Linked DNA regions of Homo sapiens. The protein of the gene in region 2 interacts with the protein of the main gene of each other region in a biochemical or structural test. Each region holds a gene or a part of one and is shown on either strand. Other genes may lie near its edges. The genes, in order: USP8 and CHMP7.

What was found.
Region 1: the proteins of CHMP7 (region 2) and USP8 form a complex in vitro, tested with the Homo sapiens proteins (one study listed by BioGRID).

What each region holds. Positions count from the first base shown.
Region 1 is NC_000015.10:50,430,714-50,434,527, reverse strand, and holds part of USP8 (ubiquitin carboxyl-terminal hydrolase 8), read right to left. Parts: intron 1-3,814. UniProt on the Homo sapiens protein: Hydrolase that can remove conjugated ubiquitin from proteins and therefore plays an important regulatory role at the level of protein turnover by preventing degradation. Converts both 'Lys-48' an 'Lys-63'-linked ubiquitin chains.
Region 2 is NC_000008.11:23,256,824-23,260,637, reverse strand, and holds part of CHMP7 (charged multivesicular body protein 7), read right to left. Parts: intron 2,606-3,814; coding exon 2,557-2,605; intron 2,309-2,556; coding exon 2,189-2,308; intron 1,907-2,188; coding exon 1,808-1,906; intron 1,573-1,807; coding exon 1,512-1,572; intron 495-1,511; coding exon 315-494; intron 101-314; coding exon 39-100; 3' UTR 1-38. UniProt on the Homo sapiens protein: ESCRT-III-like protein required to recruit the ESCRT-III complex to the nuclear envelope (NE) during late anaphase. Together with SPAST, the ESCRT-III complex promotes NE sealing and mitotic spindle disassembly during late anaphase.

The DNA.
Region 1 (3,814 bases), on a different chromosome or scaffold from region 2:
AAAAAATAAAAATTCTTAAGACGTGTAAACCTGACAAAGATAAAGAACTTCAGCCTTAGTCAAACAGCAGTGCTCCAAAAGTGAAATCCAAAAGTGTTGAAAATGAGTTAACAAAGAGAAAATGCAGCCGGGCGTGGTGGCTCAGGCCTGTAATCCTAGCACTTCGGGAGGCTGAGGCAGGTGGACTGCTTGAGGTCGGGAGTTTGAGACCAGCCTGGCCAACATGGTGAAACCTCATCTCTACTAAAAATACAAAAATTAGCCGGACGTGGTGGCGCACACCTGTAATCCCAGCTATTCAGGAGGCTGAGGCAGAAAAATCGCTTGAACCCAGGAGGTGAAGATTGCAGTGAGCGGAGTCTGGGCGACAGAGCAAGACTCTGTCTTTTAAAACAAAACAAAACAAAACAAAACAAAACAAAAAACCTTATGCTTCAAGAAGGATTGCAAGTGAAAAAAAAATAACTAAGTATATGCAAGAAAAATTAACATGCTTCTAACAACAAAAAATAAAAATTCTTAAGATGTGTAAACCTGACAAAGAACTTCAGCCTTAGTCAAACAGCAGTGCTCCAAAAGTGAAACCCAAAAGTGTTGAAAATGAGTTAACAAAGAGAAAATGCAGCCGTGCACAGTGGCTCACGCCTGTAATCCCAACACTTTGGGAGGCCAAGGCGGGCGGATCACGAGGTCAGGAGATCAAGACCATCCTGGCTAACACGGTGAAACCCCGTCTCTACTAAAAAGACAAAAAATTAGCCGGGCACGGTGGCGGGCACCTGTAGTCCCAGCTACTCAGGAGGCTGAGGCAGGAGAATGGCACGAACCTGGGAGGTGGAGCTTGCAGTGAGCTGAGATCGCGCCACTGCACTGCAGCCTGGGCAACAGAGACTCCATCTCAAAAAAAAATAAATAAATAAAGAGAAAATGTTCTTTCTCTGACATCCTTCTGCTCCTTTCTAAGACAAAGAGTAGGGATTTGATGACTGGAACCACAAAGTGAAGACTAAAAGGTAAAAAGTGAAAAATGAGGTTTGCAGTCATTCAAACTGGTCCTGATTTTAAGCAGGGATTCACACCAGCCACTCCTAAGGTCTTTGGCAATATTGAAAGGAAAGCAAAAGTTGTCTTTGTTGGTCACCCACCATCTCTCTCTATTTCTGCCCTTAGGCAGCAACAATACTCAACATAAGTATCTTCTCGCTGTCTTAAATCTCATAATCCACTCTACACTCGTTCTGTATAAGGTGCCACAAACAACTAAGTATTGATTAAATAACTTTTTTTTTTTTTGGAGACGGAGTCTCACTCTGTCGCCCAAGCTGGAGTGCAGTGGCATGAACTTGGCTCACTGCAACCTCCACTTCCCAGATTCAAGCAGCCTCAGCCTCCCAAGTAACTGAGATTACAGGCGCCCCGCCACCATGCCCCACTAATTTTTGTATTTTAGTAGAGACAGGGTTTCTCCATGTTGGCCAGGCTGGTCTCGAACTCCTGACCTCAGGTGATCCGCCCGCCTCGGCCTCCCAAAGTGGTGGGATTACAGGCGTGAGCCATCGTGCCCGGCCAATGAAATAACATTTTAAAGTAATCCTCAAGTATTAAGAAGGCTCAACCCTCTCAAGATTTAATCACTGCTAAAATGTATGGTATTTTCTGAGCAACTACTATGTCTCTAGCACTGTGCTAAATGCTTGAGGGCAGTGTTTTTAAAATCCATTAGAAGGTCATGATCAGCATTAAAAAAATAGCAAACATCAGACTATGTCACACATAGTAAGGTTAGGTACTGCTTCGTAAAATTGTTTCAGTTATGTACATGTGTATATGATATAACACTGGATGAAAATGTAAAATGTATTTCTTAATACAGGTGACAATTTTAAAAAAAGTATGAAAGTCTCACACTACAGCAATGTAACTCCAAGTATGGTCCAATGACCAGTGCTGATTGGGGAACTGTTTGTTATCAGTTTGTGATAAAATAAGAAGTTTGTGACAGAATGTAGATCAATTAAGCACACTGACCTTTTTAAAGTAGCAGCAAGACTTTCTCCATGCAAAAAGCAGTGCACTGACTGGGCGTGGTGCCTCACAGCTGTAATCCCAACACTCTGGGAGACTGAGGTGGGAGGACTGCTTGAGCCCAGGAGTTCAAGAACAGATATTTATGTTGAGTATTGTTGTTGCCTAAAGGGCAGAGATAGGGAGAAATGGTAGGTAGCCAACAAAGTGGGCAACAAAGTAAAGACAAAAAATTTTACAAAAAATTTAAAAATTAGCTGGGCGTAGTGGTGCACATCTGAGGTCTCAGCTACAAGAAGAAACAAACTTAAGTTCCATCTCTTCCATCCTTTATGGTCCCAGTTCTTGGAATTTGTTTCTTCATGTGAATCCTACAATGCTTGTGATCTATATCATTCCTTAAATACAGTAATGGGATCAACAGACAATTACTATAAGGCTTTAAAATCCTCATACACACGCAGTGCTCATGATGATGTGATGAGAGAGAGAACCTGGCCTTGAGGACAGAATTTAGCTAAGAACAGGGTAAGAAAGGAGGACATCTGGCTGGGCATGGTGGCTGACACCTGTAATCCCAGCACTTTGGGAGGCTGAGGCAGGCAGATCACCTGAGGTCAGAAGTTCAAGACCAGCCTGACCAATATGGAGAAACCCCGTCTCTACTAAAAATACCAAATTAGCTGGGCATGGTGGTGGACGCCTGTAATTCCACCTACTCAGGAGGCTGAGGCAGGAGAATCTCTTGAACCCAGGGGGCAGAGGTTGCAGTGAGCCAAGATCGCACCACTGCACTCCAGCCTGGGCAACAAGAGTGAAACTCCATCTCGGAAAAAATAGTAATAATAAGGAATATTACAGAAGTTATTGGGAAATAATCAATCGGATAGAGGGAAAATGTTGACATGTCTTTGGATCCCTGGCACCTATCTCAATAGTCCTCACATAGTCACCACTTTAATAAATGTTTCTCCCTGTCAGCTGAATTTAACTAAAAGGAAAAAAAAATGTTGACTAACAAGAATAACTAAATTATATTATGTAGGAGATGGAGTCACATTATGGAAGACTTTGGAAGCCATCCAGAATTCTTTATATTTGATTCAGCAGGCAATAAAAGCCAGTTCCTGATGGGAAAAATATTATCTCAAGATGGTCAAATTAGGGATATGTAAGTAAGATTGAAAGGAGATGAGAACAAGGGAATGATACTATGGAAAAGAGTAACTACAAGGTCACTGCAGAAAAGAACACAAAATGGTAGAAACATGCTTTGGTAACTGGTTGATCGAAACAGTATTTTCTCTTGCTTACACACACACACACACACACACACAGAGGCACACACACTGTACCCTGCAAAATATGAAGAGCAGTAGTGCTATTAACAAAAAAAGTAATACTGCAGTTTAAAACTGATCAGTTTACAGCAGCGTTTCTCAACCTTGCCATCACTCACATTTTGGACCAGATAAACATTTGTTGTGAGAGGCTGCTCTGTGCAATGTGCACTGCAGGATGTTTAGCAGCATCCCTAACCTCTACTAGACGCCAGTTTACTATCATCCTTCCCTTCCAGTTGTAACAACCAAAACTGTCTACAGTCATTGCCGAATGTGTCCTGGAAGGCAAAATTACCCCCAACAAGAACCACTGGTTTACAGCAAAGTAGGTAATTCGATGTGGAAAATGTTGAGTGTATGCCAAAGGAACATCTTAAGATGTAAATATTAACTAGAAATCAGTTATATGTGAGAGCAGACAGATATTAAATCTGTTTATCAACTAA
Region 2 (3,814 bases):
GGTCTCTCTTTTACATGAGGGTCCTTCACTTGAGGGTCCTACAATGGCTTTAGAGTCGGTTCCAATTGCCTTTTTGGAGATTTACTGCTTGGGACCAAACCTGCAAGGCAAAGAAATGACTGAACACTATAACAGGAAAATCTTGAAGATGAAGGCATTCCAGTGATTAAGAGACTGAGTCTTAATATAAACAACCCTCAACTCCCTACAGGGCTCTGGTACTCTGGCAAATGGAGTAATTGGGCTTGGGCCCATCAACTCTGTCAGCCAGAAGGCCATATGCCCTCCAAAGGCCTTGGAAAACAGCTCCATACCTCCCTCTGATAAGGACAGTTTCTCAAGTTCAGCTTCAAGTTCAGCATCTGAGATCCTAGGGTTAGGCACGCTGTTGGTAAAATGCCTATTGCGGGGGTTGTCAGGCAGATCCAAAGGTTCTTTGGTGGTATCCTGAAGGAGGATGTCCAATTCCTTCTCCAGTTCTTCACTGTCAAAATCTGGAAAGAAAAGACAACATAAAGATGCATAAACTCAAGGGAGAAATGCATTAATGAGTACAGGACTGAGGTTACCAAAACCCGCTTAGCTTTACAAAAGATGCCAGGCCTCCTTGCAGATTAAAAAAAAATCCCGGAAGTCAGGAGGGTAGCTTCAAGCAGAGATGATTCTTCCACACTCCAAGCTAAGTCACCAAGGAGGTGTATTCTGTTAACACCATGGACCTGACCCTGATTCCCACTGCCCTTGAAGGAGGATCCTCCAGTCAGAAGCCTTGTGAATGAGGAATGCCGCAGCACAGATGGGTCATGAGCACAGCTGTCGAGGAGGAAATGGCAATTCCCTGACTGCTCCCGCAGATGAGCCCCAGGGAGGGCAGGCTAGGAGAGGCCTGCCTGCACCCGGAAAAGCAAATCTACTGTCAAACTCATCACAGCACAGGGAAGCGAAGTCTTCCAGGATGAAAGGAAGAAACACTCACCTTGGGCCAGGTGTGGTGGCTCACACCTGTAACCCCAGCACTTTGGGAGGCCGAGGCCGGCGGATCACGAGGTCAGGAGTTCCAGACCAGCCTGACCAACAGGTGAAACCCCATCTCTACTAAAAATACAAAAATTAGCCAGGCGTGGTGGCGGGCGCCTATAATCCCAGCTACTCAGGAGGCTGAGGCAGGAGAATCACTTGAACCCAGGAGGCGGAGGTTGCAGCGAGCCGAGAATGCGTCACTGCACTCCAGCCTAGGTGACAGAGTGAGACTCCATCTAAAAAAAAAAAAAATGACCCCGTCTCTACTAAAAATACAAAAAATTAGCCGGGCATAGTGGCAGGCGCCTGTAGTCCCAGCTACTTGGGAGGCTGAGGCAGGAGAATGGCGTGAACCCGGGAGGCGGAGCTTGCAGTGAGCCGAGATCCCGCCACTGCACTCCAGCCTGGGCGACAGAGCGAGACTCCGTCTCAAAAAAAAAAAAAAAAAAAAAAAATGAATAAAAATAAAAATAACCACCTTGTCCACTCACCTAAGCCATTTGTTACCCCACCAGCCAGAGTCTGAGAAACTTCATCCTGGGTGTCACAGAGCTGTAAGAGACAAGTGCAAAGCCTTGAGCTGGGCATGGTGGCTCTGAGCATCTCAGTCTTTGGTGGAAAATATCTAGGGTTACAAAGCAATCCTGCCCCAAGTGAGAATCAAGGAAAGCTTCCTCAAGTTCACAAGGTCACAAGTCAGGTTTCGTTAAAGAGGATGTGCAATGAAGTCAAATCTGTCCTCTGTCACCTCCTTCTCTGTGTGTCCCTCCCTGGCCCCTTTCTGTACCTCTTGGATCTGATCCACGAGGCTCTCTGCCTTCTCCACTGTGACATCCTTCATGGAGAGTTTGAGTGCTCCTACCCCAGCCTGGTAGGCGTTAAAAACCTAAAGACAAAGCAAAGCTATCAGTGCAAATGACAGACATTTGGCAAAATACATACAATATTGTTTCAACTCCAAAAGGCAGCTTTGGGGTGTTTTTTTTGGCACCCAAGCTCAATTTACCCTATACCCACCGAGGCCAAACCTCCTGACTGGAAAGGCAAAGGCAACCCCAGCCACATCCCGAAAGAACCCAGGGATCCTCCAAACAGCCAAGCCGAAGCTGCAAGTGACCAACACACACGGAGAGACCAGCCAAGTGCTGGAGTAGAGGGGAGTGACTACCATCTGATCTGTCTGGGAGGCATAGATCCGGTCCAGGATGCCTTGAACAGTGTCCAGCTTGGCATGCAAGGCCTCGATGCGCTTCTCTGTCCGTTGCTTGGCCTTGAGAGACCTCAGTGCCTGGAGGCATGGAGACTTAGGTCAGTGCTGAACTGGGCGAGCCAAAGGGCAAGAGGAAGACAGCCCTTCCCAGACGCTAAGGATGTCCCAGCTTTCTTCCCTCCCATCTGTAAAATAAGCTGTGGTGCCTGGGCCCCCTGCAGACTCTACCCCCCTCAAAACCCCAGCAAGCTGCTCTCTGAACTGCTGGGCATTGCTCCAGGCCTGCCTGGGGCACTGCTATGGGTCTGGAGGAGACAAGAACTCACCAGCTGCTTCTTTCCTGCTCGGCATGCCCGGCGGGCTTCTTCTTTACACCTGGAAACAAAGGGACAGATAAGATTACTGTGCCACAGGATGGGAGTGGCAGGGTCCCAAAGGGTCCCTGAGAGCAGCACTCAGTTAAGGTGGTTTTAAATCTGAAGACTAAACCCAATACCCAGTGGCAAGAAAACTGATGCTGACGGCAAAAACTCTTGTGGCAAGTCTGTTGACAGTCTGTTGTGGCAGGCTCAAGCAGGCTGACTAAGGATAAGCTTTTTCAACCCACAGGGACAGAACATGCAAACAGGGCACATTATACACATCTTCCTGTTTTGGGGAGACAGGGAAGGAACTGTTAACACCAACAATGACCTCGGACATATCCTCTGCCTCCCAACAAGGCTAGACTTTCCCACCTGGAAGACAGACTTCAATGTCTGTGTTCTCCTGCCAGAGGGTGTGTCTTTATTAGGGATTCCTTGTACAGTCATTCAGGGGGAAGGGCAGGGGAAGAGCCCCTCAGAAAGACCTCTGCAAAGGCAGGGACCTGTCTTGTCCACGGCTGTATCCCCAGTCCCTAAGACAATGCCTGGCTCAATAAATATTAGTTGAATGGACACTGGCAAGGAAGAGCATAAACATAACATTCACAGTCATGGTCTGTGGGGGAAGCATTAAGACTCACGTTTTCAGCTGGGCACAGTGGCTCACCCCAGTAATCCCAGCACTTTGGGAGGCTGAGGTGGGGGTCTTGTTTGCGCCGAGGAGTGTGAGACCAGCCTGGGCAACATGGTGAGACCCCATCTCAACAAAAAATTAAAAATTAGCCAGGCATGGTGGTGCACACTTGTGGTCCCAGCTACTCAGGAGGCTAAGGCGGGAAGATTGCTTGAGCTCAGGAGTTAGACTGCAGTGAGCTAAGATCATGTCACTGCTCTCCAGCCTAGGGGACAGTGCAAGACCCTGTCTCAATTGAGGAAAAAAAAAAAAAAAAAGGCCGGGCACGGTGGCTCACGCCTGTAATCCCAGCACTTTGGGAGGCAGAGGCGGGCGGATCACGAGGTCAGGAGATTCAGACCATCCTGGCTAACACAGTGAAACCCCATCTCTACTAGAAATATAAAAAATTCGCCAGGCGTGGTGGCGGGTGGCTGTAGTACCAGCTACTCGGGAGGCTGGCGCAGGAAAATGGCGTGAACCCAGGAGGCGGAGCTTGCAGTGAGCCGAGATCGCACCACTGCACTCCAGCCCGGGTGACAGAGC